4 separate regions of the Homo sapiens genome follow, and regions 1, 2 and 4 are each linked to region 3. The links come from fine-mapping of genetic effects on gene expression. A gene starts in region 3. Each other region holds a variant in brackets. All regions are shown on one strand. Distances are from middle to middle. Region 1 overlaps CKMT1A (creatine kinase, mitochondrial 1A). Region 2 has its middle 5.0 kb from the start of PDIA3. Region 3 holds the start of STRC (stereocilin). Region 4 overlaps PDIA3 (protein disulfide isomerase family A member 3).

Region 1 (8,068 bases), 84 kb after region 3:
CGCCAGCTGATGACTCAAGATTCCAAGGAGTTCTGCTCATTCTAATGATGGCCCATTCTACTTGCTCTGGACCTGCCCTCGCATCCCCTGCCTCCATCCTAGTAAAGACTCCTTGCTATGCTGCAGCTGTCTGTGTTACTTCTAATGGTGGGGTGAGGAGGGAGCAGCCTTCAGGAAATGAAAAGAGGCAGTGGGATTATTTATGATGGAAAGAGACTCCAGATATGGCAACCCAGGAACACTGATTCTCAGGTGGGTGGAAAGCATTAACATTTTACCCATATTCCTCATCAGCTTCTGAAAATAATCAGGATGCACTTCTGTTTGCACTTTATTCATTATGACTTAAGATTTCTCTCCCCACAATCTCCTTCTACTGTAGAGACAGGCTCATAGCAGGTGGCCAAGGAAGCTGATAGTCAATACCAGGGACCAGGAAGGTCGTGACCAGTCCTGGAGGCCCCAGGCTGTACTTCGACCTATAATAGACAGGGAATGGGAGTAATATCACAACTCAGCTCTCCAGGAGCATTGATACTTGGAAATTAGCGCTCTGCCTGTAGACTCCTTCACTCCAGGGATCTCCCTGGGTGCACTCTAAGAGCCAGACAGCACCAAATTAGGGGTTTGATTCTGGGTCAGGAGATGGAGGATCAAGCTGTGCAGCTGGGAACTCACCTTGCTGTTCTGGGCTCTCCTTTCCCTCATGTTGGGCCCATGCAACTGCTCGTCGCTGCTCAGGACTCAGAAAGGCCATTTGCTCAGGAGTGACAGCCACAGCCTGAGCACTGGCGAGACTAGATAGTTGGATGGGACTAAACACCACCTGAGGGCAGGGGTAGGAATCAGTGCATGCATGTAGTCCCCATTGGGCCCTGGCTCTCCTGTGGTCACCCCAGTCCATTAATACTTACAGCAAATTTAGGAGGAGGGATGACAGAAATGGCAAGAGGAGTAACGCCCTGGATCTGTCCCCGCAGCAGTGCTGAAAGAGCCAGGTCTGGGATCCCAGCTGTTGAAGCAAGTGGCATCCAAACATTGTCTTAGACTGACCTTCCCTCTCTTCAAACCTATAGACCTTCTCTAACTACTCCCAAAGTGCCCTATCATAGACCTTCCCCAATATGTCTCTAGCCCCTTATTTAAACACCCTCTCAGGCCCACACCTGAAGAATTGCAGGGCAGTCTTCCATCCAGTCCACCCATGGTATAGAAACCAAACCAACTTGCACCAGCAGTGGCCCAGCTCCCCACCTGCTATGGTGCCAATTTCAGTGAAGATCTCAGGCCCCCAGTTACTGATTGGGCCAAACCCACCAGGCAGTACAAAGAGGTGGGCCAGAAACTCCAGTTGTTCCTCAGAGCACTGCAGATGCAGGGTGCCCAGGAAGAGAGCTGCTTGGCTGTAGAACAGTGGGAAGGAAGGAAGAAGAATTCGGCTTCAGTGAAAGGGACTGTGGTCATGAGACAAAGGAAGAGATGGCTTCAAATGAGTTCCCTTCCTCCATGGGACTATAACTTCATGATCCTCCTTTCCCCAGCAAGTCCACCTTTACCTGAACACGACCACCCTCAGCCCCTTCACAAATGACCTAAACTCCCAACTGCTGATGTGCTGGAGCTCCTCTGGCCGCAGTCCACAGAGAGTATAACCCAGCGCTGTCAGATGAACGAAGTCCAGGTGGCTCACATGCCGACCACTCTGCCGTAGGAAACTGGAGACCACAATGCGGAGCTGGGGTGGGGGGTGGGAGAAGAGGGGAAGGAGGAAAGTTATGGAGAATTAATGGACAGGGAAGTGATAGGTGTTACTGGGTTATATTCTGTTACTATTAAGACCTAAGGAGTCATGGGGAAGGCTGAGGACTCAGAAAAGAAAAGGAAAGAAAAAGAGGAAGCCTCCAGGAAAAGAGGTAGGAGACAGTATTATGTGTCCAGGGCCTCAGAGTGAATAAATCAAGAGTCCTGAAGGTCACTAGTATGGGATATTAACAAAAGACAGAAAGAATGACCAGGTAGGGTCACAGGAAAAAATTCCTTGGGCTTTAGATGATCTATAGGGCTGGGTCTGTGGGATGGGTGTTTGGGAAGCGGTAGGGAGGAGTAAAAGTGTTACCTGAGTGGAGCTCCAGCCATCTATCTGCCCCAGGGTGCTCAGCACTCCCCAGTCCACTAGGATCAGCTCCTGTAGTTCCTGATCTCCCAGACCTATTAAGAGTCTACCGAGCTGCAGGATCTGCTCAGGACCAAATCCCCGGGGGGGACCCCACAACTAGGAGAAAGAGAGGAACAATGTGAGTGGAAAACCAGTAGATTGGGAGTCAGAATGCTGGGTTTTAAGTCTTGCCTCTGACCTTAGCTGTATAACTCTAGGCAAGTCACTTGCCTTTTCTTTGGTTTCCTCCACTATAAAATGAGACCGTTGCCTTACAGTTCCTCTAAGGTGTTTTGAAAGACATTACAATCAGTGGAAAAGAAGAGCAAACTAACTCTAGTCCATGAGTTCCACACTTTTATGTGCATCAGACACAGAGACGCTTATTAAAATGCAGATGCCTGGGGCCCAGCACAGTGGCTCACAGCTGTAATCCCAGCACTTTGGGAGGCTGAGGTGGGAGGAATGCTTGAGCCCAGGAGTTCAAGACCATCCTGGGCAACACAGCGAAACCTCATCTCTACCAAAAATACAAAAATTAGCCAGGTGTAGTGGTGTGCACCTGTAGTCCCAGCTTCTCGAGAGGCTGAGGCAGGAGGATCGTTTGAGCCCAGGATGTAGAGGTTACAGTGAGCCAAGATCACACCACCGCACTCCAGCCTGGATGCTGGGTGACAGAGTGAGACTGTGTCTCAAAAAAAAAAAAAAAAAAAAAAGCAGATGCAGATGTCTAGACTTTCTCCCAGAGGCTTATTTTTTAATTTATGAGACAGGGTCTTGCTCTGACACCCAGGCTGGAGTGCAGTGGTGTGATCTTGGCTCATTGCACCCTCCACCTCCTGCGCTCAGGGGATTCTCCTACCCCAGCCTCCTGAGTAGCTGGGATTACAGGCATGTGCCGCCACACCCAGCTAATTTTTTTTCTATTTTTAGTAGAGACAGGGCTTCACCATGTTGCCCAGTCTGGTCTCAAACTCCTGGGCTCAAGCAATCCACCTGCCTCAGCCTCCCAAAGTGCTGTGATTACAGGCACGAGCCACTCCGTCCAGCCTCCGCAAAGGTTTTTATTAAGTCAGTCTAGCATGGTAATCCAGCATTGGCACTGTTCCCGTGCTCGGTTCAGCAGCACATATACAAAAAAAAATTGGAATGATACAGAGATTAGCATGGCGCCTGCGCAAGGATAACACACAAATTCATGAAGTATGCCATTATTTTTTAAGAAAGAAAAAAAAAGAAAAAAGAAAAAAATCTGTTCCCTTGATGATTGTGATATGCATTAAAATTTGGTAATCACTGCTTTAGTCCCTCTATTCATTATAGTAGCTCTCTTTCCTCAATATTTATCTCTCCTCACCTTCTACTTGTGACCCAAATCTTCTAACTCTTTTATCTTCTGCTTCCCCCACCTCTCATCCAACTCTCTATTCTCTTCGTGTCCTACATCACACCCACACAGCTTCCTCATGGCCAACCTCAGTTGGCTCTCCGTCCCTGACCCATTTTGCTTTGCCCATGGCTGCCCGTGGTTCCTCAGGCCCAAGTCCTGGGTCTCCTGCAAATAGTGTCAGGCAGTCCTTAAAGTCTGAGAGCTCCATCTCAGCAATCTGGGTTGCAGAGCAGGCTGCTGGGAATGTCCCTCGTACATCTGCACAATTTGGCACAGGTTCTGAAGGGGGAAGGCAGGGCCAGGAGGTATCTGTAGATGGAATGACTCTTCCAACCTTTGGAGGATGGAGCACTGTGGGAAGTAGGGATCGAGGGAGTATTACAGGTTAAGATGTATAGGGCTTAGAAGTGAATTGAACAAGAAGTGATTGGAGATGCCAAGTCCCTCATTTTATAGATGGAAGACTGAGGATGTTGGTCAGGGATTTCATGGCAGAGCTGAATTTGAAACCAGTTCTCTAGCCTCACAATGTCTCCTTCGAGGGATCTCCCCAGCAGAGAGCTCCACACTTAGCCGAGCTAGAGCTGAGTCAGCTGTTTAAAGAGACAAGACAGCAGGAAAATGGAAGTTCTGGGCTAAAGGAAAACTTAATAGTTTACACACTCCCAGAGCTATAGAATTTTAGAACTAGACGAGACTTGAAGATCATCCCTCTAAACTCTTTGCTTTATAAATTAGAAAACCCAGTCCCAGAGAAAAGCACATGTAGAACCCAGACCGTTTGATACTCCCTGTACATCCTGCTGGACATATAAGTATTTGGGTAGTTTCACCTGGAAGATCCTCAGCAGCTGGTCGCACCACCCCTGCTACCAGGGCTGCTTTCTTGGCAGCAAGCTGTGGCCCCCTACACAGCTGTCCAACTCTGCTCTGCTCCCAGCTCTG[C/T]TGCTTTTCTAGAAGCCGCTCCAGGGTCTCTGGACCCAAGGCCTCCTGCATGAGAAGGTAGAAGGAGAGTGGGGAGATCTGGACAGATCAGGACCTGCTGCTATAGCTATAAGTCCAAAGTCCTGTCTCTGTTTCGCAGTATCCCCCCAGATCTAGGCTTCATATCCTTTGCCCTCGTTGGCCACGGGTCCCCATAACCAGCTCACCAGTCCCCTCTATGCATTTACTCCCTTCCCTTCTTCCTTCATCTCACCCTGGGGATCAAGGAAATTGCCTCAGTAGACAGAGTGAATACTAGGCGTCCAGCTTGCTCTACTTCATCCTGGCTCCACAACTCTGGTTTCCTGGGGACAGGAAGAAAATCGGGGGCTGGGGAGCTGAGGGAACTGTGAGGAAAAGGAAGGGGAAAAGAGGACATGCTAGGATTTCGGACACAGGGCTCCAAGGGCCCTTAGGAATATGGAACAGGCTGCCACTGATGATGGTGGCTGAGGGACTGGGTATAGAATGAGTTAGAATCTGAAGTTCTCGAAGATCCATACCCAAGAACAGACTCCTGCAATAGCAGCCATCCCAGCTCTGTGGCAAATGTCTCTCCTAGGCAGAAGCCTTACAGCTGACTGAGATGGGACAGCAGGATCTGTAGGGGGATCTGTCGTGTGCTCTCTGTCCCCAGGAATCCAACCAAAGGGCCTAAGGTCTCCAGCACTTCCCCTGAGACTGGAGTCTCCTTTGGAGCCTGGAGAAGAGCATCAGAACTTGGACAATGCACTTCTGACTCAGAATACCAGACACCTTGATCAAGACACCAAGCCCCCTGACCTTCCCTCCCTCCTGCTCCCAACTCAGCACCCTATGATGCTCACTACCTTTGTTCACTTTCTTAAGCAATGAGACCAGATAGGAGCAGGCAGAAAGACTGAGAGGTGGACTCCAAGAGATTTCTCGGACTCCAAGAGGTATGGACAAGTAACGTGAAGCATATTATCAAGGAACAGAACCCAGAGGCAAAACGGGCCAGGCCTTGTAGACAGGAACCTGTTTGGCAGCAAGAAAGCAAGAAGTAGAGGGTTGGAGGACAGTCAGAGAGCATTGTCTGAGGAGCAAGAATTGCCCAGGGCAGCAAATCTGAGTCTGGTAGGGTGGACTCTTACCAGGTTTTGTAGTGCCCTCTCTGCCAGGGCTGCCTGGTGGAGGGGGGTCAGTGCCAGCAGCTGCTCTGGAGCTCTTTGCACCAGCTCCACCACCAACATAATGGATTCATTGGATAGTCTGTCCATCAACTGGATTCTATTATAGCAATTTGACAACAATATCATTCAAGTGGAGCTGGGCCAAGTCGAGAAGGGACCACAGAACCCCACAGTCCCCAGCTAAGATGTGACCCCAGACCAAATTTAGTGAAGCTGGACAGGAACTGACAGTAAACAGCTCCAGGGCCAATTCCCACCATCAAGCTTGAGTGGGGGAGAAAAAGGGAGCAACATATTTCTAGTCTTCCTAAAAAAAAAAAATAACGAACAATCCTACCTGATCTAATGGACTCAAAAGCTCCAAATATTAAGTACCATTAACATTTCCCCATTTTATAGATTAAAAAACTGAGGTTCACAGAGATCAAATGTTGAGGTCTCTCACTCCCAATTCCCGTTTTTTTCCACAGGACCACCCTTCCTCTGCTTGTGAAGAGGTCCCTTCTTGTTTGTACGTGCTATACAATTTACAAAGTTCTTTCAGGTGTTATCTCATTTGATCCTACAACAAGACCTGGCCTCACTCCATCACTCAGGCTGGAGCACAGTGGTGCTGCGATCTCAGTTCACTGCAACCCGCACCTCCCAGGTTCAAGCAATTCTCGTGCCTCAGCCTCCCGAATAGCTGGAATTACACGCACGTGCCACCACGCCCAGCTAACTTTTGTATTTTTAGTAGAGATGGTGTTTTGCCATGTTGGCCAGTCTGGTCTTGAACACCTGACCTCCGTGATCCACCCACCTTGGCCTCCCCAAATGCTGGGATTATAGGCATGAGCCACTGCACCCAGACAAAATAGGTGTTTCTCTTATCCTTCTTTCACAAATGAGAAACTCAAGTTTTTTGATGCATGGTCTAGGATCTTTCACCTCATCTGTAACCTTGGGATTCTAAATTATCTCACAGAACCCACATATTTAAACAGATCTGAATGGCATTAAAAAAAAGTAAAAACAGGCCGGACGCAGTGGCTCATGCCTGTAATCCCAGCACTTTGGGAGGCCGAGGCAGGCAGATCACAGGGTCAGAAATTCGAGACCACCCTGAGCAACATGGTGAAACCCCGTCTCTACTAAAAATGCAAAAATTAGCCGGGTGTGGTGGCACGCGCCTGTAATCCCAGCTACTCAGGAGGCTGAGGCAGAAGTGCTTGAACCCCAGAGGGAGAGGTTGCAGTGAGCCGAGATGGCACCATTGCACTCCAGCCTGGGTGACAGAGCGAGACTCTGTCTCAAAAATATAAATAAATAAACAAATAAATAAATAAATCCCTTTTACCCGAAATCAGAGGTGATAACCTGTACCCTACCTAGGATTACCAGTTCTGGAACTGGGCTAAGTCATACAAGAGCTGAAATCTGTGGAAAGGCCTATAAAAATATAAGAATGTTGGGAAGCCGAGGTGGGCAGATCACTTGAAGCCAGGAGTTCAAGACCAGCCTGGCCAACATGGTGAAAGCTCGTCCCTACAACAAATACAAAAATTAGCCTGGCATGGTGGTGCACACCTACAGTCCCAGCTACTCGGGAGACTGAGGCAGGAGAATTGCTTGAACCTGGAAGATGGAGGTTGCAGTGAGCCGAGATCACGTCACTGCACTCCAGCCTTGGTGACACAGCAAAACTCTGTCTCAAAAAAAAAAAAAAAAAGAAAAAGAAAAAAGTAAGAATGAAGTCAACTGCTTTTACTCCACTTCAGCTCCATATTCCCCAGGAAGACTGTAACACCAGCATTTTCCTATCCTGACTTACAGTGCGGATGGCAACGGGGTGGTGGTAGGGGTAAAATGAGAAAAGCAGCATATGAGTAACATACTAATAAATTTCTCCATGGGTAGGGAGGAGCCTTGGGTTCCTATAGCCTTTTCTTCCCACAACCTGTATATGAACGTGCTCTACAACATTCCTGCCATGGGGCCATCTGGCTTAGGCTCGAACAGCTCCAAGGACCAGGAACTCACTACCTTAGTTTTTCTTATACTATGTAAAAATCTGATCTCCGTTAACTACTCTTAGTCTTGCCCAATGGGGCCACTCATAAATATGACAATCTAATTTCTACTTGATAGCCCCTCAGGTATTTGAAGGTATTTATCACATTTTTCATATATTTTTCTCTCGATCCACTCCTCTGAATGCACTAAGAACACAGTGCCCTGAGCAAACTACAATCCTCTGGGGCAGATTTGGAGCATTGCCTCCCTCACTTCAGATGCTCTGTCTCAATCTCAATTAATGTGGACTAGGTTATTGTAAGATTACTTGGCAGGCTTCAATACAGTGTTGCCACCCTCAGCTGCCCTGTGCTGGAGCATATTCTGGGA
Region 2 (8,068 bases), 120 kb after region 3:
GGTCTTGAGAACAGAATGAAAATACAGGGCCATGATATCTGAACTACTTTATAACGAATGTAGAAACAAGCCACAATCATTAGGGTATATCGAATTATAACAATAAATCACTTGGTTCTGTTAGCTTTCTTTTAAAACTTTTCCTTTCTTCCCTGCCTAAAATTGGTTTTGTTCTGCAAAGCAAATTGAATGCATACTTCCTCTCTAGAACCTTATTATTTACCAATTGCTATTCCTTAATTCATTGCCTTTCTCTTTCAACCTTCTTCATCTCTTTTATACAATTAATGGATGTATGCCATGCTCTAGAAAAAAAAACACTGAAATTAAAATGGCTTAAGAGCTAAATAGAAATCAACATTGTGGTGCTCTGGCTTTAAATTCATCCTGATGCTGAACTGGATCCAGACAAAAAGAACAGAACCATACTTCGATCATCCCTAGAATTTTACAGAGGTTGGCCCCTTCTAAAAACCAATGGGGTTACACTATACTTATTCCTATGCTTGTTTTGAGACAGAGTCTCACTCTGTCACCCAGGCTGGAGGAGTGCAGTGGCATAATCACAGTTCGCGGAAGCCTGGATCTTCCGGGCTCAAGAGCCTCTGGGTAACTGGGACCACAGGCACATGTCACCATGCCCAGCTAATTTTTTCTTTAAATTACTTGTAGAGATGGGGTCTCCCTATGCTGCCCAGGTTGGCCTCAAACTCCTGGGCTCAAGCGATCCTCCGGCCTTGGTCTCCCAAAGTGCTGGGGTTATAGGCATGAGCCACTGCACCCAGCACTCCTATGCTTATTTAGGCTCTGTACTTCTTCCGTAAGTTTTTCTTTCATGCACATTTCTCTAAGATGGACAATATTTCACATTTTAACATCCATGAAATTAGGATGCTTTTTTTTTTTTTTTTTTTTTTTGAGATGGAATCTCGCTCTGTTTCCAGGCTGGAGTGCAGTGGTGCAATCTCAGCTTACTGCAACCTCTGCCTCTGCGCCACCATGCCCAGCTAATTTTATTATTTTTGGTAGAGACGGGGTTTCACCATGTTGGCCAGGATGGTCTCTATCTCTAGACCTCGTGATCTGCCCACCTCGGCCTCCCAAAGTGAGGATGCATTTTACAACCAGCGATGTGTCCCAGTTTAATTGAGCATGATTTTTATTTCTTATTGGTAAACAGTGAATTTCACCATTGATGACAGCTTAAATTCAATAAAATACAAAATTTTTTCACTTAACAATAAATTCTAGCTCTCAGGAGCATGGGATTATATAATTAGAAAGAGCTGAGGACCACATTTGTGGCTGGAAAATAGAATGCTATAATTTTTATTCAGTTTTTGCCCTTGCAAAACAGGAACCCAAACAGAGCAATGAAGTAAAATAAGGCTCTTGTAAAGCAGAATATAGTTTTGAGTAGTTTAAAATAGTTTAAGTAGGGAAGTCCAAATTATAGAAGCAGTAGCACTTTTACTCTCTGGAAAAATGAATAATTTTATAGAAGCTAAACAAACCCAAGGAAGTTCAGAGGAACGAATAGCAGAAATTGCCTCAGCAGCACAGAATGTGCAGAAGTGACTGCCTCCACTCTACATCAAGTAATGTGTCCTCTCTGAAGATGAAAAATAACTTTTTAAAATTCTTGGAATTTTTCAGGCTGCTATAGCAAAGCAAAGGAGTCTTAATGGAAATAGAGACCAGGAGCCCAGTGAAGTCTACCCAGGAATCTTAGCCAGTGAAGTGAAGTAGCAGTGAACATCTATGTTTCAATATTCTTCTCAGGGTGACAGACAGTAGCCATTTGATCAAGCAAGTCAGGCAAATACATAATTCTGTTTTACAAGGTAGAGTTCACCATGAACAGTCATCTATTGCTACTCCCTATTCTAGAAAAACAACAGTAGGTCACCTCACAGAATACCAGGTAAATTCACATTGGTTTCAAGGAGTCCAATACTATAGGTGAGGAGAATAGTACACTGTAACAATAAACTGTTATGTAGATTTTGACATTTACAGTTTTAATATTTTTAGTAATGTTTTGGCTAGTTATATCCATCATGAAACAAGGAACACTGATGTTGAAACATAATTTCTTTCTTTCTTTTTTTTTTGAAATGGAGTCTCACTCAATCTGTTGCCCAGCTGCCATCTCAGCTCACTACAAACTCCGCCTCCCGGGTTCAAGCGATTCTTCTGCCTCAGCCTCCTGAGTAACTGGAACCATAGGTGCACATCACCATACCCACTGATTCTTGTATTTTTAGTAGAGATGGGGTTTCACCATGTTGGCCAGGTTGGTCTTGAACTCCTGACCTCAAGTGATCCGCAGGACTAGGCCTCCCAAATTGCTGGGATTACAGGCATGAGCCACATGCCCAGCCAGAAATACAATTTCATGAAGAGCATTAAGAGTGATAATTCTGGCTGGGCGCGGTGGCTCATGCCTGTAATCCCAGCTCTTTGGGAGGCCGAGGCGGGCGGATCACGAGGTCAGAAGTTCGAGACCATCCTGGCTAACATAGTGAAACCCCGTCTCTACTAAAAATACAAAAAATTAGCTGGGCGTGGTGGCGGGCGCCTGTAATCCTAGCTACTTGGGAGGCTGAGGCAGGAGAATGGCATGAACCCAGGGGGTGGAGCTTGCAGTGAGCAGAGATGGCGTCTCTGCACTCCAGCCTGGGAGACAGAGCAAGAGTCTGTCTCAAAAAAAAAAAAAAAAAAAAAAGAATGACAATTCTGCAAGTTTAATCTCAAGATGATCTTCATCAGATTCTATAAATTCCATTCATATGACCAAAAACTTTATATAGCACATCAAACCCTCTCTAGGACTTTAAAAGTCAATGTAAAAAATTGTAATCTTCAGGAATATGCCCACCTTTGGGAAAAAATTGTAATGATATTATACTTAGGTTTTATTTTATTTTTGATACAGAATCTTGCTCTGTCACCCAGGCTGCAGTGCACTGGTGAGATCATAGCTCACTGCTGCCTCAATCCCCTGGGCTCAAGTGATCCTCCCACCTCACCCTCCTAATATACTCAGTTTTTAATTTTAAGTAGAGATTGTCTACACTTGCAATGTGTTATTTTCTGACAAAGGCTTGCAAATGAGTCAAATCATTTTTTCTTTCTCATTATTTGAAACAAAATACAAGATTTTAAAAATAAGCCAATTGATGTTTAAAGTGCAAAACAGAGGCCAGGCACAGTGGCTCATGCCTGTAATCCCAGCACTTTGGGATGCCGAGGCGGGCGGATCACCAGGTCAGGAGATCGAGACCATCCTGGCTAACACAGTGAAACCCCATCACTACTAAAAATACACAAAATTAGCCAGGTGTGATGGCAGGGGCCTGTAGTCCCAGCTACTCGGGAGGCTGAGGCAGGAGAATGGCGTGAACCTGGGAGGCAGAGCTTGCAGTGAGCCGAGATCGTGCCACTGCACTCCAGCCTGGGTGACAGAGCGAGACTCCGTCTCAAAAAATAATAATAATAAAATAATAAAATTTAAAAAATAAAGTGCAAAACAGAATTACCAATATCCAGTTGTGGAAGTAGATTTTTTAAAGCCCTAACAGTTTAGATCGCTTTGTGATCTGGAAAAAAAATTTTAAGCCTAAAAAAAGTCTTAATGTTTATCATATGAATTAGTCTGTTCAAAGAAATCTGTTAATCACAAATAATTTCCCTCTGCAAAATCCCTCCTCCGTTTCTCCCACAAGAATAAACTTAATAAGATAAAATTTCCACGAGCTTGCCAGATAATTTCTAGTCTGGCAATCTACTTATCCTCTGACACAGTGATCATGTTTCATATTCAGTTAACTGTTTTACCAAATAGAATAGTTAGTGCTATTCTATTTTGATTTGTCTATTAGATCTAGGGCAGGGGTCCCAAGCCCCAGGCTACGGACTGGTACCAGTCCATGGTCTGTTAGGAACCCGGCCATGCAGCAGGAAGTGAGTGGTGGGTGAGTGAGCATTACCGCCTGAGCTCCACCTCCTGTCAGATCAGCTGCGGCATTAGATTCTCATAGGAGGGCAAGCCCTATTGTGAACTGCATGTGCGTGACCCTTAGGAGAATCTAATGCCTGATGATCTGAGGTGGAACAGCTTCATCCTGAAACCTCCCTCCTACCCCATCCATGGAAAAACTGTCTTCCAAGAAACCAGTCCCTGAAGCCAAAAAGGCTGGGGACCACTGATCTAGGAAATCCTGTATAGTTACTATTATTTACTTCATTCCAAGGCTTAGTACTATAATCCTAGCCATGCAAGGCAAATACATGGCAGCAATCATACAATAAAAGGGAATTATAAGTAACTTAGTTCAAAATCTTCACCATTATGAGGAGGAAATAAAACACCTCAAAGTATATAGTATACTGTAGTGGGTCCGTGACATCAATTATTGTTGTTTATTTAAATATCTTTGACCTGACTGCAGTAAAGGACTATTTTTTTCGAGACAGGGTCTCACTTTGTCACCTAGGCTGGAGTTCAGTTGCACGATGTCTCACTGCAACCTCCGCCTCCCAGGCTCAAGCGATCCTCCCACCTCAGCCTACTGAGTAGCTGGGACTACAGGCATGTGCCACCACACCTAGCTAATTTTTGTATTTTTTGTAGAGATGAGGTT[T/C]CTCCACATTGGCCAGACTGGTCTCAAACTCCTGAGCTCAAGCAATCCTCCTGCCTCAGCCTCCCAAAGTGCTGGGATTACAGGCATGAGCCACCATGCCTGGGCCCCAGAGATAAGCTTGTAGGGGACTTGGAGCTAGAGGCAGAGTTCTGAACTGGCTACCGGCACTGGACACTTCTGTTGAGGAAAATATCTGTGTGACATAAACAGCCAAGAGCTTCATAACTACGCCCTTCTCTTAAAAATTCCTCCTAGGCTGGACGTGGTAACTCATGCCTGTAATCCCAGCACTTTGGGAGGCTGAGGTATGAGGATCACTTAAGCCCAGGAGTTCAAGACCAGCCTGGACAACATAGTGAGACCCTGTCTCTACAAAAAAAAAATCAACATAATTAGCTTGGTGTAGTGGCATGCACCTGTAGTCCAAGCTACTCAGGAGGCTGACGTGGGAGGATCAATAGAGCTCTGGAGGTTGAGGATGCAGCGAGCCATGATCACACCACTATACTCCAACCTAAGTAACAAAGTGAGACTCTGTCACTAAAAAATAAAGTGGGAGACTTCTCTACAACAGTGAGAATGAAACAAGTGAGTAGTTCTACTGTCCTTTCATCATTTCTGAGCAGTTTGAGATTATCAACAAATGAGCTCACTGATTTTGCAGACATCCTTATGTTTTGAATATGTTTCATATAATTTATTATTGGTTTAAGAATCATTTCCTTTTAAGTAATTTTTTTGGCTCAGCTAATATCTTAGTGGTACCTACCTTTCCATACTTTGTGAGCTTTCTTATTTTTACTTGAATAATATTTCTAAATATACTTGTAAAAATGTAAATGTTAGGCTGGGCGCAGTGGCTCACCCCTGTAATCCCAGCACTCTGGGAGGCCGAGGCGGGTGGATCACGAGGTCAGGAGATTGAGACCATCCTGGCTAACACGGTGAAACCCCGTCTCTACTAAAAAATACAAAAAATTAGCTGGGCGTGGTGGCGGGCACCTGTAGTCCCAGCTACTTCGGAGGCTGAGGCAGGAGAATGGCGTGAACCTGGGAGGCTGAGCTTGTGGTGAGCCAAGATCGTGCCACTGCACTCCAGCCTGGGCGACCGAGTGAAACTCCGTCTCAAAAAAAAAAAAAATGTAAATGTTAGATCATTCACCGATAGGCACCAATATCTTTAACAGAAAAGGTTAATGCAAACAATTGTCAGCCTAAACTGACAACAGAAATAAAACTGGTCTTCCCAAGTTCAATTCCTTGTGGATTTGTTACATTGCTACATATTACACCTAGTTTTATGTGTCTAGATGCTCTGTATCTAGTATACGCTTGAGAGCCCTCCAAATATTAATATTTCTTTTTTTTTTTTTTGAGATCAGGTGCAGTGGCGTGATTTCGGCTTACTGCAACCTCCGCCTCCCAGGATCAAGTGTTATTCTGCCACAGCCTCCTGAGTAGCTGGGATTACAGGTGTCCGCCACCACGCCCAGCTAATTTTTTGTATTTTTAGTAGAGATGGGATTTCGCCATGTTGGCTAGGCTGGTCTTGAATTCCTGACCTCAAGTGATTCAACCACCTCGGCCTCCCAAAGTGCTGAGATTACAGGTGTGAGCTACCGTGCCCAGCGAATATTTCTAGATTTTAGCAGTTGCATAAATTCTACTCCAGGAGGCTTAATTGTCCTTAATATAAATGTCACATTTCAAATGACATTCAAAAATGTAAAATGATCAATTTAGAAAAAAAAAATTACTCCTACCCACTTCCTCTTTTTCTTTTTCTTTTTTTTTTTTTTTTGAGACAGAGTTGTACTCTGTCGCCCAGGCTGAAATGCAGTGGCACAATCTCAGCTCACTGAAACCTACGCCTCCTGGGTTCAAGCGATTCTCCTGCCTCAGCCTCCCGAGTAGCTGGGACTACAGGCCATGCCACCACGCCCAGCTAATTTTTTGTATTTTTTAGTAGAAACAGGGTTTCACCATGTTGCCCAGGCTGGTCTTGAACTCCTGAGCTTTGGCAATCCGCCTGCCTCGGCCTCCCACAGTGCTAGGATTACACGTGTGAGCCGCCGCGCCTGGCCTCACTTCCTCTTTCATACAATGTCAGTTCTCACGTATTTCAACCATCAGTACGATCGTATTCAAAAAGATCAGGAAGATGATGAAGTTTTTGAAGAGAGGACCTGTTGTCTCTTAAGGAAACATACAGAGTGGAGTTCTTTCTGATTTATGCAGCTGAAATAATAAGAGCAATAACATAAGCAGTGAGAATGAGACAATGGAGTTTGGGAAGCAAAAAATAAGTCATTAGGCAGATGATCAACAGCCAGGATAAAAATGAGTGACATGAAAGGATACACTCAAGGACCCATCCGGCCCACAAAGAAAGAGGTGGCCTCTGACTGCAGCGCACATGAAGCCTGCTCAACAGCCTCTGGGCATGTGAAATCTGTTCTATACGTTGAGGCTTTATAGAGACGCCCACTAGCTGGTGTTGATCTCCCAACATAAGTTTCTTCTGGCGGGAAGGATCTACAACAAAAATTGAAAAGGGGTAGTGGATAAATACAAACAAAATAGACCAGGTAGGGTTGGGGGCAGGGATACTGTTCAGATAATGGGTCCCCCTAATGGCTTACTGCTGGTCCTTCTCTTCTCACAGCAACTAAGAATTCTGTTTGGAGTGAGAGCAAATGTATTGCTTATGACCAACACTGTCCATGCCCACAAAAGCAGCAGGTTCACTCTCAAAGTTTTAAGAGTCTTTGACAGAAACTGTTCCGTATCATCCACGGCTAGTGGCTATCCTAGGCCTAAAAGTGAAAGACGTGGATTCTATCTCCTTAGTTTTATTTACAAGCCCTTGATTTATCAAGTTTGGTAAACCAGCAACTAAACCGGCCTCCCCAGAATTTTCCACTCTTAAATGTAGAGGATGTGGATAGGAGTCTTAAATTTAAATTAGTGAAGAAATAGGCTGCTGACCAAGTAACTCCTGATAGTGTGTCGCAGCACAGCTTGGCTCAAGCCTTGCAAATGCTCGATGAGAGAGAAAGTATCGATGAGACGTGAACGAATGGCATCAGCTCGGGGAAGCTGCATCTGCCCTTCTTGTTGGTAAGCGGCCATGTCTGCTAAGAAAATGTAAGCATCAAGTGTCATTTCATTCTTGGAGCTGCACCAAGGATTACAGGTTTTCTGTCCCCTCCTCCCCACCCTCTTTGCCCTTAAGATTCCTTAATGTACCCACATCTACGAACTAGGAGCAGTTGGGCAGAACAAACATTCTACTAAGACTCAGGGTTTTTTGAAACAAAAGGGGCTAAGAGTGGTAAAGACATTGAGCAGTCGACCAAGTGGCCAGGCATCTTCACTTTGTGACGGCACTACCAATTAAAAGCTCATTAAAAAAAAAAAAA
Region 3 (8,068 bases):
CTAATTTCTCTTGTACCCTCTCCCATGCCAGGTCCATAGTTGGCTCAATTAATACTTGTAGACCTGAACCAAATACTATGAGACTATCTAATTCCATTTTACTGGGCCCAGGGTTTGAAAAAGGTGGCCCCAACATGGAGTAAGAAATCTTTATATATCCTACAGAACCTAGCAAAGTGCCTTGCATATAATAGGCACTCAGTGAATTAATTATGGTGTTTAACATATTCTCACCCCTCCATTCTACAGACTAAAAACTGAAGCCCAGAAAAACTAAATGAAATTGCTTGCCTAAGATCACACTAATTTGTGGCACAGTTGAACCTAGAACCAAAGTCTTCTGATTGGTAGTGTCCCTGAATCTTTCTCATTCCTACCTTATCTTCCTGTATTCTGCCAGCCTCCAATTCTCACTCTCTAGGGGAAAAATTTAGAGTCCTCTAACTTGATCCTTTTTCTTTCTGGTGCAGAAAGTGAGAGAGTCAAAGAGCCCAAAAGAATAACAAGGTAATATTTATTGCATGTTTGTGTATCATGCACTGTGCTAAGCCCACAGCATGTATTATCTCATATACCATTATCATCCCTAGTTTATAAATGAGACGAGAAAAATATTGCTCAGAGAAGTTAAATAACTCATTCAAGGCTGGTCACAGAACCAAGATATGAATCCAAGCCTGTCTGACTCTAGAGCTGTGTGCTTCAACTACTACCCCACACTACTGCCTCTGAGTATTCGAGGAATTCCCCTGGAGGGCCTTCTCACTGTTCTAGGAGCTTTCCCTCTGGCAGAGCACTCACACTAAAGCAGGCCAGCAGCTCCATCTTGCTTATACCAGAGCTGGGGTTGACAGTGGGTTCAAAGCCTGATGGGGTTGGCTGCTCCTCATCTTGTTCCAGGTATTCCCCAATCGTCCGTAGCACACTGCGCCGGCCCTCTGGGCGAAAGGCATCCCAGAAGGAGCAGTTGTCTGGGAGACTGGAGAGCAGTAGGGCCCGACCCAGCATCCCCTGGGCCTCAGCGCCCCCAGCCCCTGGACCCAAGAGGAAGGTCAGCAGGCGGAGGAGATAGTGTAGGCGTGTGGGGTGAGCAAGAGCTGGGACAGAGGACTGACAGCGTGGCAACTGGGATAGCATGCCAAGGAGGAAGGGGCCAGGGGTCAGACAGAGTGGGGATGGTCCCAGTGGTGGCAGAGAGGGCAGAAGGGGGCCCAGCAGCCCTTCTAGGAAGCAAGTGTCATTGCCCCCACGACTTATCCTGCATTGGCCTGCTAGCCAAGGCCAGAAGGGCACCAGGACCTCATACATGGTGTCATTGGCACAGACCATCACCAGGAAGCTGCCCCCATCCGGGCAGCGTTCCCCACAGGGTCCAATGTGGCATGGTGGGGAGGCAGTGACATCTGGGGTGGGGCCCTGGCACACATGCTGGACCCAAGCCTGGTTGCTGGGGGGCACAGCCTGTAGACTTGCCTCCCCACACAGTCGCTCAGCCCACAGAGTCTCATTCTCCAAGAAGCAGCCCCAAAAGATGTCTGGGGTGAGGGGAACAGGGGGCAGGCCTTCAGGGCAGCTGGTAGGGGGTGGGAGCAGGCCAGCACAGAGCCGCTTCACCAGGCGGCGGTTGGAGCCAGACAGGGCTGAAAAGGAGAGGTTACTGCAGATCGCATCCAAAAACTCATCAGGAAACTGGTCGTGGCAGGCCTGTAGCCAGCCTTGGGCACCTGGTGCCCAGGACACTGCATACCACACAGCTGTCTGGCAGATGGCAGTGGTGCTGGGATGGGGCTGTGGAGTGGCAGGCTTGGTGTGCTGGCAGAGCAAGTGGATGGAGAAGTTGGAAATGCTGTAGGGTGGTGCTGGGCCTAAGTGGTTCTCACAGAGGGCCTCCACAGTGATGGCTCGCCGTTGGCGTGGGCTGATGTGGGCTGACGGCTGAGAAGCTCTGGGCAGAGGCACGCCCGTGCTCAGGCAGTGAAGGAGGGCAGGGGGTGGGGGTGGTGATCCAGACAGAAAGCCCAGCGCCTGGACATCCCAGGAAAGGTTGTGCCGGACGCCCCTGGGTGCAGAGGGAGGAGCAGGCAGGATCTGGTCAGTTCACATTTCCTCCAGCTGAAGATTCTGACCCTGACTCAGAGCCCTCAAGGGGCATGGCAAGCATAGGCTTTTCTACAAGCGAGGTCCCTGAGAGTTTAGGCGTTACTGGTTGAAATGCTGCAACGGGGCAAAAAAGAGAAAGCTGCCCTGCCAAGGTCCAAAATCACCTAGGAGAAGCCCCAGTTGGAATTCTTTCTGTCCACCTGGCCCCCTTCTGTCTCCTTTCTTCGTATGCTTTTAGATAGCTTAAACACAACCCTCAGCGGGCCTCATGTTAGGAAATCTGCTCAGCAACTCAATATGTCTAACTACTGTCTGGCATTGTTGTACTGAAGTAGTAAGGGGGTAGAGGAATCCAGCTGTGTCCTTATTTTCCAAATCCCATCTTTACTAGCTAACATTATTAAGCGCTATGTGCCAGCACGGTTTTAAGTCGTTTGCATACACAGTATCAACTCATTTAACCGGGTGCAACAACTCTGTGGTAACTAATATTATCATTCTCATTTTATAAATGGGGAAACTGAGGTATAGAAAGACTATGTAACCTGCTCAAGGTCATATGGCTAGGAAGAGGTGGAGCTGGGACACCAACCCAGACAGTCACACCCCAAAACCACTAAACTACACTCCTCCCATCAGTTTTCCTCTCTAGAGGCTGAGGTCTTCAGCTCTTCACCTCCAGATTTTCCAGGCCCAATCCCTCAGAACTGGTCTCCTGTTACTTACCATAAGAGCAGCTGTTGAAGGTTACCTAGGAGGGAAAGAGTAAGGAAGAAAACTACCCCAATTTCACTTTCCTTGCCCTGCCACATCCCAGTCCCAGCCCTGGCCACACTCACCTCCCTGGCACTGCCCATTGGTATCAGGCTCTGGCTGCCCCAAAATGGAGAAGACCTCATCCTGCAGGGAGTGAGTGACACGGAGCAGCCCCTCCTGAAAGGCAGCATAGAGGGGGGCCCCCACTGTGCGTAGCAGACCGCCCCAAAGAGCCTCCTTGGAGCCTAGCTCCCCTGTTGGGGTAAGCAAACCCAACAGACCCTGCAAAAAGTGAGGAGCTGCCTCCCTCCCATCGAGGCCTGTGGCATTGGTGGGGTCCACACTGGGCTGCACCTGCACCAGAGCTTGCCAGCGTGTGCCCTCTAACAACAGCAGCAGAGAAGGCAACCAGTCAGCAGCCAGGACACAGTCAGACGGCCCATCACGGGTGCATGGGGGCCGAGTTGGGGTAGGGGGGCCCCCAGGAACTAAGGCTCCCAGCAGCACCTCCACAAGTCCACCCAGCACCCCTGCCTGGTGCACCAGGAAATCTCGGGGAGTCTGCTCCTGTCCCAGCAGTGCCAGCATATCCCCTAGCAGCCCTAGCATTGGCTCCCAGTCGGGGCTACCTCTCAGTGTCACTAGAAAATCATGGAGCCGCAGAGCAGGCGGCTGGAGAGGTGGGGGCTCTCCTACTGGTCCTTCCCCCATTCTCCCAGGCTCAAAGGAAGAAGAAATGTTGGCCAGGAATGTAAAGAACCGTGAGCGGCTCAGGGAGCCCTGGGGAGCCTGGTCCAGAGTGGAGAGCAATGACTTCAGGAAGGAGAGACCAGGGTCCAGGGAATGAGGCCCAGTAGGGGCCAGAGTCACTGTAAGGAGAGAAACCAGAGGTCACTGAAGGAGAGGAACACAGAGCCCAAACTCAACCCTGCCCCTGAGCACAGTTCCCTACCTGGATCTAAAGATGAGGTGAGGGGATGGTGAGCTGAACCCCTTTCACTGGCCTACAGTAAGTCTTGGCCTGCTTTTCTTAACCCTCATTTTTCCCTTTTGCACAAGTCTCTGCCTCTCTCCTTTGTCCTTCTATCTAACAGGTTCACCTCCATATTCTTAAAGTCTTTTTCCAGCCACCCTCCTCCTCATCCCCAGTTCTGCTCACTGTTCTTCTTACCTGCAAAGGACAGCAGCAGCAGCAGCAGCAGCAGCAGCAGCAGGGGCCAGAGGCTGAGAGCCATGTTTCCAAGTGAACACTGGTACCGGAGGTGAGTTCTGGTTATTCTCACCTGTGTGGGATAGCCAGGTGAGGGCAGGGCACTGCAGGCAACCTGAGGCTCCACTGACACTGTAGTGTGGTCTTTCAGGAAACAATATGTGTAACCTGACAGCAGGTTTGTTACCTGAGCCGCTGAATATCTGATCCTTTAGCTCTGGAGAAGGGTATGCTTCTGTGAGAGGGACTAATGATAGGGGATCCCAGGGGCCCCTCAGAGAAACCCAAGGAGATTGCTTGAGTTAGGAGCCAGTGATGCAGAAAGGAACAGGCAGACATGGAGATGGAGAACTGGAGACCAGGGGTGTAATCTGGGGTTCTGCAGAAGCAAAGAAAACAAAGAGGATATGAAGGAGCTAAGAAGCAAGTAGGATTTGAGGAAATTGAAGAAGAAATGACGCCCAGGAGAAACAAACTGCACAGCAAGGTATAAACAGACGAGAGGTCCAGTCCAAGGATGGAGAATTCAGGAAGAGGAGAGCTGCTTTCAACTACTACCCAGAACCACAGAGTGTCAAGAGCTGAGCAGTACCCCAGAGATCACATACACCAAACTTTTTCACTTATGGATAAGGAAACAGACCCAGAGAAATGTGATTTGCTCATTAGGCCATTCAAATGTTTGGGTCTTTCCTTCCCCCTCCGGGATCCCCTATCATTTGGTTCTTTCTCTGTGGCCTAGGTGAAAGCCCTATCAAAAACTCTGAGCTGAGAAGACAGAAACCAGATTAAATCACTATGCACAGGGACTGATCTCCCTACACACAGAACTGCTCATGGAACAGAGAAAGAGATTTCATTCAAAATAATCTGGTCTGGTCAGGGTTAGAAGTCTTTTTTCGTCATTTTTGTTTTTTGTTTTATTGGTTTTTTGGTTTTGGTTTTTTTGAGATGGAATCTCTCTCTGTTGCCCAGGCTGGAGTTCAGTGGGGCTATCTGACCACTGCAACCCCTGCCTCCTGGGTTCAAGCGATTTTCCTGCCTCAGCCTCCCAAGTAGCTGGGATTACAGGCACGTGCCACCACACCCAGCTAATTTTTGTATTTTTAGTAGAGATGGGGTTTCACCATGTTGGCCAGGCAGGTCTTGAACTCCTGACCTCAAGTGATCTGCCCACCTCAGCCTCCCAAAGTGCTGGGGTTACAGGTGTGAGCCACCGCGGCATTTTTTTTTTTTTTTTTGAGATGGAGTCTCACTCTGTTACCCAGGCTGGAGTGCAGTGGCACTATCTTGGCTCACTGCAATTTCTGCCTCCTTCATTCAAGCGATTATCCTGTCTCAGCCTCCCAAGTAGCTGAGGACTACAGGCATGCGCCACCGCGCACGGCTAATTTTTGTATTTTTTGGTGGAGACGGGGTTTCACTATGTTGCCCAAGCTGGTCTTGAACTCCTGACCTCAAGTGATTTATCCACCTCAGTCTCCCAAAGTGCTGAGATTACAGGCTTGAGCTACTGCCCCAGTCCAGGATTAGAAGTCTTTTCCATTCTCCATCTATATCTCCCCAAAGGCCTTCACTTTATACCAACTCTAAATAGTAATTCAACACTGAAGCTATACCCAAACTTTTATTCTGTCCTTCTTTCCCTAGAACCCTTCCCCATTCTCTCCCTCAAATCCACACATGGAACTTCATTATTAATGTGCTTCTGATCTAGAAGATTCACTTAGGATCATAGAGTTTTATTTTTGTGTATTTATTTACTTAGAGACAGGGTCTTGGTCCATGGCCCAGGCTGGAATACTGTGGTATGATCCTAGCTCACTGCACCCTCAAACTCCTGGACTCAAGCAATCCTCCTGCTTCGGCCTCCCAGGATCACAGAAGAGACCTGAGGAATCCTCTGGTAAGAACTTCTCATTTTATAGACAGGGGAATTGAAGCCCAGAGAAATGGAATGACTTAACCCAGGTCACAAAGACAGCTGGGAGCAATGATGGGATTTTCCAAGGCAAATCAAAAGTTGAGATCAGTGAAATGATCTGTTGTGTAATTTTACCAATATTCCCTTTGCCCATCAAGGATACCACACCTAGTCTAAAAAGCAGACAGTTGAATCTGAGGGAGAATACGACCTGAGTTCCCAACAGCTTTGTGGTTCCAGCCCATCCTGTAATCCTTCTGAATTTCTGCCCTTCATTCTGTAACAACCCTCTTATAATAAATTATCCTTCTTTCCTCATAGGGTAGCAAAAAATGAGATGGTCTAGGTTCAAACCCTGGTTCCAACATTTACTAGCTGTGTGTCCTGGGGCAGTTTCTAAATCTCTGTTTTTGGTTTTTTGGGTTTTTGTTGTTGTGGTTGTTGTTGCTGTTGTTGTTTTTACTGTAAAAAGGAAAAAACCCTAGTGTAGAGTTTTTGTGAGGATTAAATTAGATAATGCATTTAAAGTACTTAGTGCAATGTCTAGCATTCATTCAACAAAGATTAAGCACTTATTATGGGCCAGACACTGGTACAGAATAAACATTCACTCTATGTTACTATTACTATTATTAGAATAGCTCAAGATGAATTTTTCTACTTGAAACTAAAGGAGTTCTAATGAATACATAAATGATTATCTGGAAGTTGTATCTTGAGTGAAAGACCTTCAGAACAAATATGGAACTAGTTGAGTCAACCAGAGAGAGAAACAATGAGGATTCCCTTAACTCAGGATGGAAATTTTCCTGGCAGTCCACGTTCTGCTGTTGTAAGCCATTGATTAAGCAATTCTCTTGCCGCTAAGGATTCAGACTATGTGCAAACTGACGGCAAAGTGCTTAGGGTTTATGGCACATATACCAGGCTATTTGAGTGTATTGGTAATTGCTTATAATTTGATAAAGTTCAACAAGAGCAAGACAAGTTCCAACCTACAGGTGACCAAATGGAAACAGAGAACAACCAGCAAATTTAAATTACAAAGGTCCAGAACAAGAAATTAATCATATGTCCTGCTAAAATGAAATGGATAAGACTGGTGATAACTGGAACACTCTGTGATCTGCCAGTTAGAATGGGTATACCTGGGAAGAGCCACAGGAGTTGAGAACTCTGAAACATCCTCACTCCCCAAAACTCCCACAGGACACTCTCTGCCTGACAAGAACAGATGCCTCCCTTTTTTTTTTTAATTGAAACTGAGTCTCACACTGTCGCCCAGGCTGCAGTGCAGTGGTGTGATCTCAGCTCACTGCAACCTCCACCTCCTGGGTTCAAGCAATTCTCATGCTTCAGCCTCGTGAATAGCTGGGATTATAGGTGCGTGCCACCAGGCCCAGCTGATTTTTTGTATTTTTTGTAGAGACAGGGTTTTGCCATGTTGCCCAGGCTGGTCTCAAACTCCTGGGCTCAGGCAATTTGCCTGCCTCGGCCTCCCAAGTGCTAGGATTACAGGCGTGAGCCACAATGCTCAGCCAGATGCCTCCCTTTGTAAAGTACAATTATTTTTCTCTTTTTTTGGTTTGGCTTTGGTAACTGAAATATTTATTGCTTACTAGATATCTAGGTGTTTCTCACATTTCCCAGATCTCTTGCAGTTAGCTGGGATCAGGTGATTAGTTCTGTTCAATGGACTGTGGTTGACCAAAGAATTTAAGAGCTAGCAAATGAGCCTCCAACAATCTCTTCCCTGTTGAGGCAACCTAGAAACCACATGTTGAGATGGCAGTGTCACAAGGTCAAAATAGCCCGAGGCTCCAAATTACCACAGCATTTACAGTCAGTCTTTGTCATTTGTGAGTTCTGTATTTGTGGATTTGCCTAGTCACTAAATGTTTGTAACCCAAAATCAATACTTACAGTGCTATTGAGGTCATTCACAGACTTGTATTGAGAGGTGACAAGTTGGAGTCACCTGATATACACGTTCCCAGCTGAGGTGGAACAAGGCAGTGCTCTGCCTTCTTGTTGCAGCTCTCATGGTGTAAATATTAGTGTCTTTTTTTTTTTTTTTT
Region 4 (8,068 bases), 130 kb after region 3:
GAGTTCAAGACCAGTCTGACCATCATGGAGAAACCCCCGTCTCTACTAAAAATACGAAATTAGCCGGGCATAGTGGCACATGCCTGTAATCCCAGCTACTCAGGAAGCTGAGGCAGGAGAATAGCTTGAACCCAGGAAGCAGAGGCTGCAGTGAGCCACGATCCTGCCATTGCACTCCAGCCTGGGCAACAAGAGCGAAACTCTGTCTCAAAAAAAAAAACCAGAATTTTTTATTTGAATTGAAGGGGGTGTTTCCTACTTTAAATTGTTACACGTGCTACCCTAAAAACTACATATCCCATCAGGCACTGACTGTCCCAAGAATTGGGTGGATCTCTGCTGTGGTGTCTGCTTTTAATTGGTTTAAAAGAAAAAGTCATCCTCCACAATTTCAGCAAGAAAGATGAGTTTTCTGAATGAGCAATTTGGAGTTAAAGAAGTCTCCTGTTGAGGTCTTTATTTCTTCACATTCCACTACATTTTTTTTGTGTGTGTGTTTGTGTATTTTTTTTTTTTTGAGATGGAGTCTCGCTTTGTTGCCCAGGCTAGAGTGCCATGGCACTATCTTGACTCACTGCAACCTCCGCCTCTTGGGTTCAAGTGATTCCCCTGCCTCAGCCTCCCGAGTAGCTGGGATTACAGGTGCCTGCCACAATGCCCAGCTAATTTTTTTGTATTTTTAATAGAGACAGGGTTTCACCATGTTGGCCAGGCTGGTCTCGAACTCCTGACTTCAGGTGATCTGCCCACCTTGGCCTCCCAAAATGCTGGGATTACTGGCATGAGCCACTGCACCCAGCCTGTTTTTTTGTTTTTGTTTTGTTTTGTTTTGTTTTGTTTTTGAGACAGAGTCTTGCTCTGTTACCCAGGCTGGAGTGCAGTGGCATGGTCTGGGCTCACTGCAACCTCCGCCTCCCGTGTTCAAGTGATTCTCCTGCCTCAGCCTCCTGAGTAGCTGGGATTACAGGCACGCACCACCAAGCCCGGCTAATTTTTGTATTTTAGTAGAGACGGGGTTTCACCATGTTAGCCTGATGGTGAACTCCTGACCTCAGGAGATCCACCCTCCTCGGCCTCCCAAAGTGCTGGGATTACAGGCGTGCGCCACCTAGCCTGGCCTCTGTATTTTTATTTATTAACATTTCAGCTGGAAATGTTTTCTGACTGCTATATTCCTTTGTACAGTTCAGTAGTACTATCTTACAAGAAACAGTTAAAAAATCCTTAGTAAGAGTAAAATGGGGTCTGGCCCTGTTGTGCATTCCTGTAATCCCAGCAGTTTGGGAGGCCAAGGCAGGCAGATCACTTGAGATCAGGAGTTCAGACCAGCCTGGCCAACATGGGGAAACCCCATCTCTACTAAAAATACAAAAATTAGCTGGACGTGGTGGCGCACATCTGTAATCCCAGCTATTTGGGAGGCTGAGTTGGGAAAATCACTTGAACCCAGGAGGCAGTGGCGAGGTAAGAGACCAGCCTGGGCAGCATGGCCAGACCCCATCTCTACTAAAAAATGACAAAAATTAACCGGGCATGGTAGCACACGCCTGTAGTCCTAGCTACTCAGGAGGCTGAGGTGGGAGGAGAAGATCACTTGAGCCTGGGAGGTGGAGGTTGCAGGAAGCTGAGATTGCACCATTGCACTCCAGCCTAAATGACAGTGTGAGACCATCTCAAAAAAGAAAGTAAAATGGGCTTTTTTTTTTTTAACCTTATTCTCGTCACAAAATAGACCTATTTAAGCAAATTCTTTTTCCGCTTTCATGTTTCAAGTGAAAGTGAAAGGTGAAAGCTTGCTTTGCTTGCTTTTTTTTTTTTTGAGACAGTCTCTCTCTGTTGCCAAGGCTGGAGTGCAGTGGCGCGATCCCGGCTCTGCAACCTCCGCCTCCCCTGTCTGGCTAATTTTTTTTTTTTTTTTTTTTTTTAAGTAGAGACCAGGTTTCACCATGTTGGCCAGGCTGGTCTTGAACTCCTGACTTCACCTGAATCACCTGCGTTGGACTCCCAAAGTGCTGGGATTTCAGGCGTGAGCCACCGTGCCTGGCTTAGTGAAAGCTTTCTTTGCAGTTGATTTTGTAGACTAATATTTCCATTATGGAGTTAATCTGCTATATATTTTTAAGGATAAGAGTATCTGAATTTCTCTGGGGAAATAACACTATTTAAATGTTTGGAAATGTCCGAAAATTTATTGATTAGTGTTAATATGTAATATTAAGTCCTTGGCCGGGCACGGTGGCTCACGCCTGTAATCCCAGCACTTTGGGAGGTCAAGGCGGGTGGATCACGAGGTCAAGAGATCGAGACCATCCTGGCCAACATGGTGAAACCCCGTCTCTACTAAAAATACAAAAAGTTAGCTGGGCGTGGTAGCAGGTGCCTGTAGTCCCAGCTACTCGGGAGGCTGAGGCAGGAGAATGGTGTGAACCCAGGAGGTGGAGCTTGCAGTAAGCCAAGATCACGCCACTGCACTCCAGCCTGGGCGACAGCGAGACTCCTTCTCAAAAAAAAAAAAAGTCCTCAACATCTATTTATGCTATAGATGTGTATGCTACCCTCTAAGACAGTAGTAATAAATAATGGCTGGGTGCAAAGGCTCACGCCTGTAATCCCAGCACTTTGGGAGGCCAAGGTGGGCAGATCACGAGGTTCAGGAGTTTGAGACTAGCCTGGCCAACATGGGGAAACCTTGTCTCTACTAAAAATACAAAAATTGGCTAGGCACGGTGGCAGGAGCCTGTAATCCCAGCTACTCAGGAGGCTGAGGCAGGAGAATTGCTTGAACCTGGGAGGTGCAGGTTGCAGTGAGCTGAGATCATGCCACTGGACTCCAGCCTGAGTGACAGAGCAAGACTCCGTCTCGAAAAAAAAAAAAAAAATAATATATGTGCTAATTTCTTTACTTGTAATCCCCACCCCGAGTTGATCTTTTCAACATCAACATTTAGCTCATATTTTTTTTTTCCTTCCCTGGACAACTAACTGGTTGATCCTGCCTCTCTATTGGCATCTAATAATACTGTGTCACCCCTGCCAGACTGGTGTTCCTATAAGGAAAGGACTATACCAATTTTCTTATCAAAGACACTTGATAAGGCACTTATCAAAAAGTACTTGACGCATGGCACACATGATGAAGTGATGATTATGGGTGAATATATGTTGGAATTCATTATCAACTGCCAGGTGCCATCCCTGAGGATAGATAGAATTAATTGTGTTTTAATATTTTCTAGGGGTGGGTGAAAGAAGTAGTGGTTAATCTTGAAGGATGTATGTTAACCAACCCTGATTTCCCTTAAATACCACCTGAGTTCCATTCCTGCTGGATTTGAAGAGGAGAGTCTCCTCCAGCCTCATTGAAACTCTTTTTGTGGATTTGATGACCTTATGGATATTGCCAAAGTTTAAGGCAGTGGATTTTAGTCCCAGCCTTGCAGCTTACACACACACCTGGTTGCTCCCCAGATTTCTGGAGATTCTCATTCAGTAAGCCATGCATACTTTTGTTGTTTTAATGCTCTGTGGGTATTTTTGATAAGCATCTAGAGTTGACACCTACTGGCTTGACCTAGTAACTATTGTATGTGATTTTTTTCTCTTAAAATGTTTGAAGATAGTTGAAACAATTAACTCATAAATCTGTTGCCTCAGCCTTGACAACTACTATATATTCAACAGAAATCTCTCATCTGTCTCTTCTTTATTCTCATTGCTG[C/G]CATTCCGGTCCAAGCTTTTATTGTCTGCCATGTGAAATATATTATCTTCTAGATGGCTTTACTCTTGTCTCTATTTTCTCCCTTTCTGTCAGTCTTTGACATTGCTGATTGACGTAGTCTTAGTACACGTGCACGCACATTTATTATCTCACAAAAGCCCTTTACAGTTCTCTGAATGCATCATGCTTACTGGTATTCTTTTACGTTTGCTCTACTATCTCCCTCATCTTAAATACCCTGCCCTCTTCTCTCTGAAGCGTTAAATCCTTAAAGACCCAGATCCAATTGTTACTCCCTTTAAAATCCATTTACTATGCAGTATTAAAGGAATACAGAGGATATAATGAATAAGACCCTATTTCACACACATAAGATACCACTGATTGTGAGAGGAACTATCTTGTGTCTCACTGAGAAAGAAATACTACCACTGAAACTATAACATGACTGCAAAATACATCTTAATATCAGGAAAAAACAATGAATCTGAAATACAGCATAAGGAATAGCATTTGTTTGCACTCAGTCTGAAAAACATAGCCAGTACATTTGAAGTCCCCTATGTGCCCCTTTACCATCTTATACACTCCTTTATCTTGAATTTGGTATTTATCATTTGGTTCTTTTATACTTTAATAGGCCGCCTGAAGGCCTTGGAGAATAAGCTGTTATAATCCTTTATTTTAAACAAGTTTTAGGTGTACAATATTTCCAAGTTATCCATCACTTGATAAAATTACACCATTGACTATTGAAATATATCTGCTCAAGTTTCTTCTCTATTATATTTCTATTTTTGCTGTCTACGGGAAGGTTACAGAACTCACCTTCTCAACGTGATCCCTCTGCAACCCTTTGGCTTTTGAAAAGGTGATGTACAGCTGGTGCTAGCTGTATATACACTGATTAGGATTTTCTGGGCAGAGGAGCCGGTGCTTCTGGTGGCCCTCTGGGAAAGGTATTCTAGTTTACATGTTTTGTTATCACTTCTCATGGCTAGGTGAACTATGTAGCTGTAAAAATCAGGCCTGCCATCTAAAAGACTTAATATCATACTTGAGACATTACAGGGTTTCAGTCACAATTTTGTGTCCCCACCCCCACCCCGAGACAGAGTCTTATTCTGTCACCCAGGCTGGAGTGCAGTGGCGCGATGTCAGCTCACTGCAACCTCCACCTCCCAGGTTCAAGCAATTCTCCTGCCTCAGCCTCCCGATTAGCTTTGATTACAGGTGCCCACCACCACGCCTGGCTAATTTTTGTATTGTCAGTAGAGACGGGGTTTCACTATTTTGGCCAGGCTGGTCTTGAACTCCTGACCTCGAGTGATCTACTCGCCTTGGCCTCCCAAAGTGCTGGGATTACAGGTGTGAGCTTCAGTCACTATTTTTAACAACCACAATGCTGGTTTCCCAGGGAATTGTATTTTCCTCTGGGGAATTCTATCAGAAATGGGATTATTTCTATTTTGTCCTTCATTCAGCCTCATTAATTGGTCAAAAGGGCATTAACCCATTCAACCCTCTTTAATAATGTGGCGTACACCTTTGACTACAGCTTTCACAACTTAGTTATACTTTGTATTGAGAAAATAGAGCTGCCCTGTGCTGAGCCAGTACTATGGAGTCAACCTCAGTCTAGGGGTAGGACCTTTACCTCTTGAGAGTTCTGGTTTACTTTAACAATAATGAATGTTGTTCATGTGATGATTTTGCTTTTTGGAAGTGTCTACTAGCTCAAAGGTAGTATTATAGTTTGAGATTCTTCCTAGTGAGACAACATTAACAAATTCATAGGACTAAACTGAGAATTTGGCTTTTTTAATACGTATATAGGTGTGGACACTGCAAGAGACTTGCACCTGAGTATGAAGCTGCAGCTACCAGATTAAAAGGAATAGTCCCATTAGCAAAGGTAAGTACAGGTGGATTCTTCACTAAAGGACGTGAAGTATTTTAAAAAGTAGTTTGTTGTCTCAGCTTTGTTACATGGAAAAAAATAACAGTAATAAATAGTTTGTAAGATTAACATTCATTTTCTCTACTCTTATTCTGCTAAGAAGAGCGAATACTAGTTTCTGGGCAAATACACAACTGACTTGTAGTTTCAAAAGATTAAAAGTAGTGGCTGGGCGCAATGGCTCATGCCTGTAATCCCAGCACTTTGGGAGGCCGAGGTGGGTGGATCACGAAGTCAAGAGATTGAGACCATCCTAGCCAACACGGTGAAACCCTGTCTCAACTAAAAATACAAAAATTAGCTGGGTGTGATGGCACGTGCCTGTAGTCCCAGCTACTCAGGAGACTGAGGCAGGAGAATTGCTTGAACCCAGGAGATGAAGGTTTCAGTGAGCCGAGATCGGGCCACTGCACTCCAGCCTGGTGACAGAGCAAGACTCCGTCTCAAAAAAAAAAAAAAAAAAAAATTAAAAGTAGTGAGAGTAAGGAAATTACTGGCATAAGAAGTAAAATAGACCAGGTATGGTGCCTCACAGCTGTAATTCCAGCACTTTGGGATGATTACTTGAGGCCAGGAGTTTGTTGCCTGGGCAACAAAGCAAGACCTCATCTCTACAAAAAATTTAAAAAGCTGGGTGTGTTGGCTCACACCTGTAGTCCCAGCTTCTCAAAAGGCTGAAGCAGGAGGATTGCTTGAGGCTGCAGTGACTAGACACTGCACACTACTAGACTCCAGCCTAGGTGACAGAGTAAGACCCTGTCTCTTAAAAAAAAAAAAAAAAGTGTAATCCCAGTACTTTGGGAGGCCAAGGCAAGTAGATCACTTGAGACCAGCCTGGGCAACATGGCAAAATTCCATCTCTACTAAAGATACAGGCAGGCTTCCATAGTCCCAGCTACTCAGAGGCTGAGGTGGAAGGATTGCTTAAGCCAGAGAGGTTGAGGCTGCACTGAGCTGTGATTGAACCATTGCACTCTAGCCTGGGCAATAGAGCGAAACCCTGTCTCAAAAAAAAAAAAAGTAGTAAAGTATATGGTAAATAAGAATTAAAGATGGAAAGCAGAAGTACAGCTATAAAGGTTAAAATAATCATTGAGGCTGGGCACGGTGGCTCACGCCTGTAATCCCAGCACTTTGACAGGCTGAGGAGGGCGGATCACCTGAGGTCAAGAGTTCGAGACCCGCCTGGCCAACATGGTGAAACCCCATCTCTACTAAAAAATATAAAAATTAGCCATGTGTGGTGGCAGGTGCCTGTAATCCCAGCTACTTGGAAGGCTGAGACAGGACAATCGCTTGAACCCAGGGGGGCGGAGGTTGCAGTGAGCTGAGATCATGGCACTGTACTCCAGCCTGGGCGACAGAGCAAGACTCCATCTCAAAAAATAATAATAATCTACAAGTAAATGAGTTCCCTAAACTGCTATGTGATAATCACAATGATGGTAATACGAAAATGATATGAGGATATTGATGAAAATGTAACCAAATGGTCAACTGTAAACTTGGTATTTGTTTTTACAATTAAAGTAATGCTTCCAGAATGTTGCCATTCTGTAGTAAACCCATAGTTGTTCTAGTCTAAAAGCTCTTACCTCTGCCAAATAGTTCATATATAAGGCTATTTTTGGAAATTACTTTTAATCTTATCAAGCAGCTTGCCATAGGAAAAAAATTTAATCATAGCCAGGCGCTGTGGCTCACGCCTGTAATCCCAGCACTTTGGGAGGCCAAGGCGGGTGGATCTCCTGAGGTCTGGAGTTCAAGACCAGCCTGGCCAACATGGTGAAACCCCGTCTCTACTAAAAATACAAAAATTAGCCAGGTGTGGTGGCCGGTGCCTGCAATCCCAGCTACTCGGGAGGCTGAGGCAGGAGAATGGCTTGAACCTGTGTGGTAGAGGTTGCAGTGAGCTGAGTTCGTGCCATTGCACTCCAGCCTGGGCAACAAGAGTGAAACTCCGTCTCAAAAAAAAAAAAAAAAATTCAATCACAATTCCTACCTGTGTGACTATAGACACATTAATTAATTTTCTGGATCTTAGTTTACCCATCTTAGAGCATAAGGATCATACTTCATAATCTTATGGAGATTAAATGAGATAATATATGCAAAGTACTTGTGCCTGGGTTGGAGTAAGTGGCTCGTTCCGGGAAATTATTTTCCTTCTTCCTGATAGGTCTCACTAGATCGGTTATGTTATGGTATAGCCCAGATTCAAACTAGTTCAGGGTACGTGTACAGGTGTTGGTACCTTTGATAATAGCTCTAGATGATTTGCAAAATCAAATTACATTACACCTAAAGGATATGTACCACCATCGATATATCCCCTTGGTGATAGTCGTAATCAAAGTAAGCCACTGTTAATAATTTAAGTGATTTATCCC

The links. PIP is the estimated chance that this variant, and not a neighbour inherited with it, causes the effect.
Region 1: its variant is the best candidate, but not a certain one, in a credible set for the expression of STRC in nasal epithelium (TOPMed, PIP 0.76).
Region 2: its variant is the best candidate, but not a certain one, in a credible set for the expression of STRC in whole blood (TOPMed, PIP 0.61).
Region 4: its variant is the best candidate, but not a certain one, in a credible set for the expression of STRC in whole blood (TOPMed, PIP 0.69).

What each region holds. Positions count from the first base shown.
Region 1 is chr15:43,699,098-43,707,165 of GRCh38, forward strand. It overlaps CKMT1A (creatine kinase, mitochondrial 1A), which reads left to right. Exons shown (of 9, transcript NM_001321926.2): 9 at 1-125. It also overlaps the pseudogene STRCP1 and the pseudogene RNU6-353P. Among named protein-coding and RNA genes, the nearest start is that of CKMT1A, 9.3 kb to the left of the region's middle. The variant C/T (reference allele first, on the strand shown) is at 4,491.
Region 2 is chr15:43,737,388-43,745,455 of GRCh38, forward strand. It overlaps the pseudogene CATSPER2P1. Among named protein-coding and RNA genes, the nearest start is that of PDIA3, 5.0 kb to the right of the region's middle. The variant T/C (reference allele first, on the strand shown) is at 4,647.
Region 3 is chr15:43,614,632-43,622,699 of GRCh38, forward strand. STRC (stereocilin) reads right to left here and starts at 4,169. Exons shown (of 29, transcript NM_153700.2): 1 at 4,028-4,169; 2 at 2,940-3,725; 3 at 2,827-2,851; 4 at 802-2,059. The coding sequence starts at 4,091. RefSeq lists an enhancer at 706-1,579.
Region 4 is chr15:43,748,270-43,756,337 of GRCh38, forward strand. It overlaps PDIA3 (protein disulfide isomerase family A member 3), which reads left to right. Exons shown (of 13, transcript NM_005313.5): 2 at 5,555-5,633. Among named protein-coding and RNA genes, the nearest start is that of PDIA3, 5.9 kb to the left of the region's middle. The variant C/G (reference allele first, on the strand shown) is at 3,719.